3 linked regions of the Homo sapiens genome follow. The protein of the gene in region 2 purifies or fractionates together with the protein of the main gene of each other region. This does not show direct contact. Each region holds a gene or a part of one and is shown on either strand. Other genes may lie near its edges.

Evidence for each region.
Region 1: the proteins of IDH1 (region 2) and OAT fractionate together in Homo sapiens (co-fractionation; one large-scale study listed by BioGRID). This does not show direct contact.
Region 3: the proteins of IDH1 (region 2) and KYAT3 fractionate together in Homo sapiens (co-fractionation; one large-scale study listed by BioGRID). This does not show direct contact.

Annotation. Positions count from the first base shown.
Region 1 is NC_000010.11:124,401,924-124,405,581, forward strand, and holds part of OAT (ornithine aminotransferase, mitochondrial isoform 1 precursor), read right to left. Parts: intron 3,641-3,658; coding exon 3,513-3,640; intron 1,998-3,512; coding exon 1,875-1,997; intron 1,133-1,874; coding exon 1,004-1,132; intron 1-1,003. UniProt on the Homo sapiens protein: Catalyzes the reversible interconversion of L-ornithine and 2-oxoglutarate to L-glutamate semialdehyde and L-glutamate.
Region 2 is NC_000002.12:208,248,498-208,252,155, forward strand, and holds part of IDH1 (isocitrate dehydrogenase [NADP] cytoplasmic), read right to left. Parts: intron 3,071-3,658; 5' UTR 3,055-3,070; coding exon 2,933-3,054; intron 164-2,932; coding exon 1-163. UniProt on the Homo sapiens protein: Catalyzes the NADP(+)-dependent oxidative decarboxylation of isocitrate (D-threo-isocitrate) to 2-ketoglutarate (2-oxoglutarate), which is required by other enzymes such as the phytanoyl-CoA dioxygenase.
Region 3 is NC_000001.11:88,937,951-88,940,783, forward strand, and holds part of KYAT3 (kynurenine--oxoglutarate transaminase 3), read right to left. Parts: intron 1-2,833. UniProt on the Homo sapiens protein: Catalyzes the irreversible transamination of the L-tryptophan metabolite L-kynurenine to form kynurenic acid (KA), an intermediate in the tryptophan catabolic pathway which is also a broad spectrum antagonist of the three ionotropic excitatory amino acid receptors among others.

The sequences.
Region 1 (3,658 bases), on a different chromosome or scaffold from region 2:
CAGGCTTGAGTGCAGTGGCGTGATCTCAGCTCACTGCAATCTCTGCCTCCTGGACTCAAGCAATTCTCCTGCCTCAGCCTCCCAAGTAGCTAGGATTACAGGTGCCCACCACCACACCACACATGTTATTTATTTATTTATTTATTTTGTAGTTTTAGTAGAGATATAGTTTCACCATGTTGGCCAGGCTGGTCTCGAACTCATGACCTCAGGTGATCTGCCTGCCTCGGCCTCCCAAAGTGCTGGGATTGCAGGCATAAGCCACCACACCCGGCCAAGAAACTGATACTTAATGACTTCAACGAAAGAGTTTACATCTGCCAACCTAACTACCAGTAACAACCTAATGACTTAGTCATACCCTAAAACATTACAAATACTTTAGGTACACTTCAATGGCACAAAACAATATAATTTTGCAACTAAAAGAGAAAAGCTATTTCTGCAATGATATAATTTCACAATCACTTCCAACGTCGAGATGAAATGCTTTGTTTAAATGCTTAAAAAACAAAGCTGAGCATTCTTTTTAGCAAAAGTTTTGTCTATTCAGCAAAAACATCTATACTTCAGAGACCTCTGATGTAGTAACAATTACTGGCTCTGAAAGGCAAACCCAAGACATGAACTACAACAAACATTAATTTTTCTCAGTCTCTTTGTTCACCAGTCATGGTTTTAAACAATTAGTAATATGCCATGTTTCTGAACACTGGAAAAAAGGACAGGAGTCTACAGGAGTCCTTTGGGGGTAAACTGTTTCCACCCAAATCCAATGTCATAGCAAATTCCAAGGCACACTCAATTCTTCAGGCAATAAGTAAGTGGGTCACACACTGGTCCCTTAAATGTTTTTATTACAGATATTCCGGGTGGCCTGCAGCACACTTGGTAAAATCAAACAATCTGAAAGCATTGTTGTCACAATCAGTTGATGTATAAATACTTTAGGGGTATATTTTACAAGAGTAGGAAATGGAAAGAGGGGGAACATGAAACTTACAGGGTATAAGCCCCCAGAAAGGGCCTTTCCAAGGAGGACTATATCAGGTCTGACATTTTCATAATCAACAGCCAGCCATCTACCAGTTCTGGCCAATCCTGTCTGTATTTCATCAGCAATAAAGAGAACCTATTGGGGAAAAAAAATACCCCTATTAGTGATCACTTTCGTTTCCACAGGGAAAATAGCCATCCTTATTTCACTGTCCCCCCACCAACAATAAATGTGTAATTCTGATGTGCCCTCAAATTTGTAAAAATGTTTTAACTGCACACAATTTCAAGAGTATCCTATAAGAATCTTGTAGACTCACCAACTATTTCCTTTGTCAGGCCACTATCTCCCTAGAGGCCCATTCTGCCCTGCTCTACATAGTGAAAAGGTGCTGATGCAAAGGTGAGGGTTTTGTATGGCTTTTCTGGACCTAACTACCCTCTGGGAACAAATTAATTCATTTGTTTATTCCACAAGCATTTAATATGTGACAGAAACTCTCAAATGGTAAACAAAATATACTACTATTAGCCCTGGGGGAAAGGAGGAGAGAATACAACAAAGGGCTTGCGGGGGCTCAGAGTGAAAGGCTCTTAGAGCAGCGAGGAAGGAAACGCTGTTAAGACCAGGTCTGCAGTTCTGCACAGGGCCCAGGACAAGGCCAGAGACAGGAAAAAGTCTGCTTCTGTGCAGGTTTCTAAGCACTAGGAAGTACTTAAGCTCTTAGAATGCCATCGCCCTCTAGTGGAAAGTAATTTAATCTTTGCATTTATCCAATCAGCAGAATTCAGAGAGGAGTTGGGGAGGAGCCCATTCAGCCTCATCACAAACAGCTAACTCGACATTCAGCCTTATCACAAACAGCTAACGTGACAACCTGGTGCCTGGTGCAGAGCTCTCGCACTCCCATTAGGTAACCTGGATCCGGAACAACAACGCCTGCTTCACCCTGAATTGGTTCTACCATGAACGCAGCCACATTTGGATCCTGAAGAGCACGCTACAGAAGAAACAGGAATAAGTTTTAATAACTTCCTTTCTACCACACTTGGAAATCTGAAAGCATATACCACACATATTTTACATTAAGTATGCAAATCAAGTTTTCGCACTAACGTAAATTCTGACTTCAAATTCACTGCCATTCAATTATCAGAAGCTCCAAATACCTCACCTTTAAGTTACACTAGCCTACATTTCCTTTTTTGCCTCATTCTGTTGCCCAGGCTGGAGTATAGCAGCACAAACATGGCCCACTAAAGTCTCGAACTCCTGGGCTCAAGGTGATCCTCCTGCCTCAGCCTGCCAAGTAGCTGCGCACCATGCCCAGCTAATTTTTTATTTATTTTCATTTTTTTTTTTTTGGAGATGGAGTCTCACTCTGTCACCCAGGCTGGAGTGCAGTGGCACGATCTTGGCTTACTGCAGCCTCTGCCTCCTGGGTTCCAGCAATTCTCCTGCCTCAGCCTCCCAAGTAGCTGGGATTACAGGCGCACAGCACCACGCCCAGCTAATTTTTTTTTGTATTTTTAGTAGAGACAGGGTTTCACCACTGTCTCTGGTTTCACTGTTGGCCAGGCTGGTCTCGACTCCTGACCTCAAGCAATCTGCCTGCCTCGGCCTCCCAAAGTGCTGCGATTACAGGCGTGAGTCACCGCGCCTGACCTTGATTTTTAAATTTTTTTGTAGAGACAGGCTCTCCCTATGCTGCCCAGGCTGGTCTTGAACTCCTGAACACAAAGTGCTCCTCCAGCCCTGGCCTCCCAAAGCACTGGGATTACAGGCATGTACCACCATGCCCAGCCTGTTTTCTAATACACAAATGTACCTAAATTAAATCTGGCTGGGCACAGTGGCTCATGCCTGTCACCCCAGCACCTTGGGAGGCCAAGGTGGGCAGATCACTTGAGGTCAAGTGTTCGAGACCAGCCTGGCCAACGTGGCGAAACCATGTCTCTAAAGAAAATAGAAAAGTTAGTTGGGTGTGGTGGTGTGTGCCTGTGGTTCCAGCTACTTGGGAGGCTGAGGCAGGAGGATCACTTGAACCCAGGAAGCGGAGTTTGCAGTGAGACGAGATTGTGCCACTGCGCTCCAGCCTAGGTGACAGAGTGAGACTCTGTCTCAAAAAAAGAAATTAATTACTTAAATTAAATCTAAAGTAAATAGCCTTTTAAAGCCAACTTAAGGCTTTCTTAAAAAGTCTTCCACTTCATAATTTTAAAAAGCTAGCTAAAAACAGAAATTTTACCTAGTAAGTAAGCAGGTATACCGAAGTTAACTGTTATGAAGGACACACATCTAAAGTAGTTGGCTGGCTGTACAGAGTAGATCACAGAACTCAGCTTTCTCTGTGTTGGAAACTAATTGATCGCTACTGAGAACAAGTCTGAAATCGTGGCTTAACTTAAGTGAGATAAATTTGCATTACTGTCATATAATGTACTTTTAATTCATATATTCAACAGCTTTAATTTCTATTCCCAATGAGCTGAGCACTATGATGCTAGTGAAATACCTCCAGTGCGGGCAGATCATTATAGGGAATGATGTCGAATCCCGGCATAAATGGTCCAAAACCATCGTAACTGGTTGGGTCTGTGGAACTGGAGATAGCAGACAACGTCCTACCCCAGAAGTTCCCAGCTACAAAGGGGAAACAAA
Region 2 (3,658 bases):
TGGTGATTTCCACATTTGTTTCAACTTGAACTCCTCAACCCTCTTCTCATCAGGAGTGATAGTGGCACATTTGACGCCAACATTATGCTTCTTTATAGCTTCTGCAGCATCCTTGGTGACTTGGTCGTTGGTGGCATCACGATTCTCTATGCCTAAATCATAGCTTGAAAGAGAAAAATTAGAAGCAAAGTTTTTCAGACAAATGGATAGTTATAACCTACAACTGCAGTGATGGCATATAGAGCTCATTATGCAGAAAGCGAAGGCTCTGAGTACACCAAAATCTGCCAAGTTTTAGCACTGGCACACCCTAAACACAGAAGATGGGTGCCAACTACAAAGAGAACTAAGAGAGGCTAGACTGCTGGGCTGCCCCTCCTCTTGTAATGGGAAGCTGTCTATCAGGAAAATGAATGGAAACCATCAAACTCTGCCCTTTGCCTCCTGTTTTTCACCAGATAGAGGCAATAATGGCCTGGTTTCTCTCCATATAATTAGTATAATAAGTGTAAGTCTAAGGACCACCTTTTTCCCTTAGTAAATATTGCTCTTTAAAAATAAAAGGGGGTGGGAGGGGTTAAAGGATTTTTTGTATTTTGACGTTGAAGTGGTGGGAGGTAAAGATGTGACAGTTGATGCCAAAAATGCGAATGACTACTTCATTAATGCCAGTTAGTCATAAAATGAGCCTTTCCCTTTTTTTTTTTTTTTTAGATGAGTCTCGTTTTGTTGCCCAGGCTGGAGTGCAGTGGCACGATCTTGGCTCACTCAACCTCTGCCTTCCTGGGTTCAAGTGATTCCCCCGCCTCAGCCTCCCCAGTAGCGGGGACTACAGGCATGCACCACCATGCCCAGCTAATTCCTTCTGTAATTCTTGAGCAAGTGTTTGCTCTGGAAACAAGCCTACAATTTATTGGGTAAGTAAAGGAATCCATCAATGGTTTTCTACATACCAGAGAGTAATAGCTTAATATACACCAACACAAAGATTGCAGGTCATTCAGAGCTGAAAGAATGTTAGTTGTCCAGGGAGCATAGAAAATGACTGCAAAGCTTTATTTGAAGCATGCAATAGTTTGTTAAAAAGCAAGAAAACAAAATAATGTTTTGTTTATTCTGTTCTCCAAGGATTTAAAAGGTTTTTCAGCTCTTAAAACCTGCCTCTAGATTTCTTTTTGGTTCCCTTATCTTCCTTTCTTAGATCTCCTACCCAACTCATGATGCAAACAAAGAGATAGTAATCTTGACATATTTCCAAATAAAAATAACTTCCAACTGCTTCGACTTTAGATAATTCATATAAATCTAACAAAGTCATGTCCTTTGTTATCTTCTTGCATAGGAAATGTTGATCCAATCCCAACTCCAACAGGAAGTATGATCAGTAGTTTTCAAGTTCCTAGGAACCATTTCTCATAAGGAGAATCTATCAGCAAATTATTAGATTTTTTGCTTGTCTTCTTAACATTTCTAAGAAGATAAGAAAGGAAGGAACAAATTGCCCAGACCACTGTCCAGCCTACATAAAACAAACTACCTGCTCCATTCTCCTGAAAAAGAACCAGTCAGTGATAATAATAGGAATTTTGGAAAAATTTAAAACTTGTTTGAGCCTCCAAAAATTATCTAGTCTGCAGCCACCAAATTTTTTCCTCCTAGTCATAGTGACTCCCCTTTAAAACTCCTCATGATTCCACACTAAAGAGGCTCAAAGCATCTTTAGTTGCAGCCATTATAAGGAAAAGAACCCTGCCAGTTCACCTACTGTCATGTAAAGTCCTGAAACAGGAGTTCCTAAGATGCTTTTTTTTTTTAACCTAGTTGGAAGATGTTTTTATGCCTAATTTCTTATGTTTGGTTGACTTCTGCAAGTATTTATATCTTATCATGATTTCAATATAGACATCAGCAGCTTAGGTTTAGAACAATTAAAAAGTATGTTTAATGACATTATGTGAATTAAATGTCTCCACTCAAACAGGTCCTTAGGACAAATTTTGATGACTAATTCTGGGCTGAGGCAAACACACTTAGAGTTGCCAATAGTTTGGCTGAAACGTGTTGCTCAATATTTTTCTATGCCAGTCTTCAGCCACTTTACCCTTTTAAAAATTCTATCTCTACCTAAAGGTACAAAGAACAGAAGCAAGTTTATGAAAAACACAGCGAAAAAAATGAGAGAATTACATAGACTTTTGCATCTGTCCCCAGGCACTTTACACACAGGGCAAAGGGACACAGGATTTAAGGGAATTTTGCTGGAAAGGAGGGGTTCAACTAAGAAACATCATGAATTCTTTCTGCACTACAATTGTATGAAAAGGGCAAAAGGTGAGGCATGAAAAGGAAACAGGTCCATTGACTAAGTAAAGTGATAGAAAATTGAGTTTGAAATGACAAAATTGTGTTAACTGCATTTAGTTTACTGTTTCTTACATCCTCTCTTATTTCCCTTTTCTCAATACATTGTACTATTCTTAGCCACTGTTTTATTACAAATAAAACCTTCACAGGAAACAGAAGGTTAGAAGAATCTGAAAATCATTCTTTCCCTTATAATTCTTGACTTTTAGATGATAAATCCAGTTTTTCTAGCAGTATGTTAAAATTAGAAGATTCATCTGAATATATTTAGGCTTAAAACAAACTTTATTCACAAAACACAGCTATATCTATATAAAAAAAGCTAACTTCACCTCAAAATAATTCAGATTATATTCTTTTTTTTTTTCCTGTTTCTCCTTCCCTTTTTTTTCCTTTTTTTTTTAAAGTGATGGGGTCTCACTCTGTTGCCCAGGCTGGACTTGAATTCCTGGTCTTGAGGGATCCTCCTGCCTCTGCCTCCTAAGTAGCTGGGACTTCACGTGTGCACCACCATGCCCAGCCAGATTATCCTTTCTGAGTTTGCTACACGGAGGGGTAACTCATTTACCTATGTAGATCCAATTCCACGTAGGGAAAAATGAGTTTCTCTTTAATCAATTCCCAAATGATTCGTGTCATTTCATCTCCTTGCATCTCTACCACAGAACCGCCACTGATTTTTTTGGACATTTTGACTTCAATAAACCTAAAAAGAAAAAAAAAATACATGCCTTGTCATTTATTTCATTATAAAGTGAAATATATAAACAACGTAGTGTTTATATAAACAACGTAGTGACTACTAAAAGAACAATTCATGCAATTCAATTTATGTGTAGTTGAATAAAAAGCTAGTAACAGCAATTCTATTTACCATTAGAATTGAGTATCTTCTCTGAACAAAGTATTGTGTTATGTTTCACACGCGGTTTCTGAGCTAGCCCTCATAACAATCCAAAAAAATGGCCATCATTTCCCCATTTTACTTTGTTAAAAAAAAAAGAGCTTTCCCAAGGCCACCTAGCTAGAGCGTGGCAGAGCCTGACCCTATAACGTGCCCTTCATAATGCAATCATTATTCTCAACTACTGGTTTGTCTTAAGAAATGAGATTATTTCCACAATCTCATGTTTATTGAACACTTCAGTCCAACTCATCATTTTACTGGGCTCTCAAGATGTCCAGAATGGTGAGTGCTAGCATTTCTCCTCCTTTAAGAGGCTGTTTTTGTTATTTAATAAAAATAACTAGCCATGAGGAGATTCAGCTGGTTCCTGTGACCCATATTCAGGGA
Region 3 (2,833 bases), on a different chromosome or scaffold from region 2:
CTAGCCTGAATTAATTAATTATTATAAAAAGGACATTATTGGGACAATGAATGACATTTAAATCAGATCTGAGGATTAGATGGAGTATCAAGGTTAACTTCATGATTTTGAGGGTTATATTGTGGTTTGGGAGGAGAATGTCTTGTTTATGAAGAATACACAAGAAAGTATATGGGGGTGATCGGAGCATCCTCAGTAATTAAGTTGACAACTTACTCTGAAATAGTTTAGAAAAAAGTTCTTGAAACTTTTAGGTTGAGAGCATTTAAAAATATTTGTTTTAAAGTAAGTCAGCTTCCCACCTATCTTCCTCAGCCACTCAGTTTTTCTCTCCAGAGACAACACTGGGATTTCATTATATATTTTTCCAGAGATTTTCATCCATCTTTCTTTTTAAAATTGTATATTTTTTATTGTTCTTGTTTATTTATTTTTAACTTTTATTTTAGGTTTGGGGGTACATGTGAAGATTTGTTACATAGGTAGACTCATGTCACAGGGGTTTGTTGTACAGATCATTTCATCACCCAGGTATTAAGAGCACAGCACCCAACAGTTATCTTTTCTGCTCTTCTCCCTCCTCCCACCCTCCACCCTCAAGGAGGCCCCAGTGTCTGTTGTTCCCTTCTTTGTGTTCATGAGTTCTCATTATTTTTGGCTCCACTTATAAGAGAGAACATGTGATATTTGGTTTTCTGTTCCTGTGTTAGTTTGCCAAGGATAATAGGCTCCAGCTCCACCCATGTTCCTGCAAAAGACATGACTTCATTCTTTTTTATGGCTGCATAGTAGTCCATGGTGTATATGTACCACATTTTCTTTATCCAATGACAGCATTGATGGGCATTTAGGTTGATCTGAATGTAGCATCATTTATTCAAGCAGCCCCCACTGGTGAATAATTTTGTTGTTTACAATATTTTGCTATTACAAATGATGCCTCAGTGAAAATCCTTGAATATAAGTCATTCGAAATGTGCAAATAAATCCACAAGAAAACACTTGTAGAGGTAGAATTGTTGGATCAAAGGGTATGGGAAATCACATCTGAACAGAAATTTTCAAACTAACCACCATAGAGATTTTACAAATTATACTCCCACTCTCAATTTGTGAGAGTGTTTTATGAAACTTTTAGTTGTTTTGGTTGTTTCCAATCTAAGAGATAAAATTTCTTTGCAGTTCTATTTTTCATTTCCCTTACTATGAAATAAGTTTGACAACTTTTATAAGTTTAACAACTACTAAGGATCTTACCCATAATATTATAAAGTGCTATTTTTGCCTTAAATTTATTTACTTTTATCACTTTTATTTTGCTCTGAATTCAAACTGCTTTCTTTCAATTTCTATTTTCTTGGTATGTTTTTGTCATTCTTTGATTTTTAGTCTTTCTAAGAGGTGGAGTTAGGTGTGTCCACTTTCCCTAGAAACTTCCAGCTACTTCCACACTATCTGCCAATATTGACTGCTGATGTAAGAAGAGTCTGGGTCCATACTGATCCTCCTCTTCTGGCCCCTCTGGAGGCCTTGATCTTACTGTCTAGGTGACCAAAGGAATTGTCTTTGAAGCCCAATATATCAAGCGAGGTATATCTCAGTGTTAATAATTGTGTGACAATTATTATTATATGCAGGTTCCATTTGTTCTGCTCTTATTTTTTTCTGGCAACTCCACATATTTTATTTTTCCTCTGCATCAATAATTTTTCTGCCTAATATTTTAAAAATTATTTGTTCCTTTCTACTTCCTTTTGCTCACTTATCTCCATCCTTAATGTCCTTACAGAAGTATTTAGTGTTCTTTGTGGTGTTTCTATTAATAATGTCACCATAATTTCCAATAGCTTTATTTTTTCTTTTCAATTTCCTACCTGAACTCTGATAGCTCCCATTTGATCTTCTTATAATATCTTACTCTATCTTCCCTGAATTCGTAAAATCTCTGCTTTCTCATTTTAAAGGTTTTAAATCTGAAATAGCACTAATTTTATTTGCTCCATGGCAACATTTTTTTTGGGCGAATATTCTCTAACACTTGTTTTTCCTTGTACCTTTCTCTTTTCCTTATACTGTCCTATATAGATTCACAGTTGGTTCCTCTTTTATTATTATTATTATTGTTATTATATTTTTTGAGACAGAGTCTGACTCCATCACCCAGGCTGGAGTGCAGTGGAGCAATCTCAGCTCATTGCAACCTCTGCCTCCTGGGTTCAAGTGATTCTCATGCCTCAGCCTCCCAAGTAACTGAGATTACAGGCATGTGCCACCATACCCACCTCAATTTTTTGTATTTTTAGTAGAGATGGGGTTTCACCATGTTGGCCAGGCTGGTTGTGAACTGCTGACCTCAAGTGATCCTCCTGCCTCGGCCTCCCAAAGTAATGGGATTACAGGTGTGAGCCACCGCACCTGGCCCCTCCTCTTTGATTATTAATCATTTTTGATTGAATTCTTTGTTTTCCACTGCCAAAGCATGCACTATACCTATTGTTCTGAGTAATAAGCATGCTACCTGCTGGCTTTGTCTGTGATTTGAAGATAGATTTGCTGATTTGTATAAGGGAGAAGCTGGGGCAGCACCAGAAAAGAGCAGAAATTCTCCTTGTCTCATAGTAAAATTTAATACAGTTGATGTAGGGTTCAGTGGGTGGGAGTTCTTTTAGACCACAGTTCTTACCAAATAATTAAATTGGCTATCCCCAGTTTAATACATCTCTTCCGCATTGCTTCAACATAGCTTTTAGCAAAATGACAGGAGTAAATGAGGAAATCTATAGACCAACCAGAGTCTCCTTTCCACCTTGCCTTACATAGTTTCCAGATGACA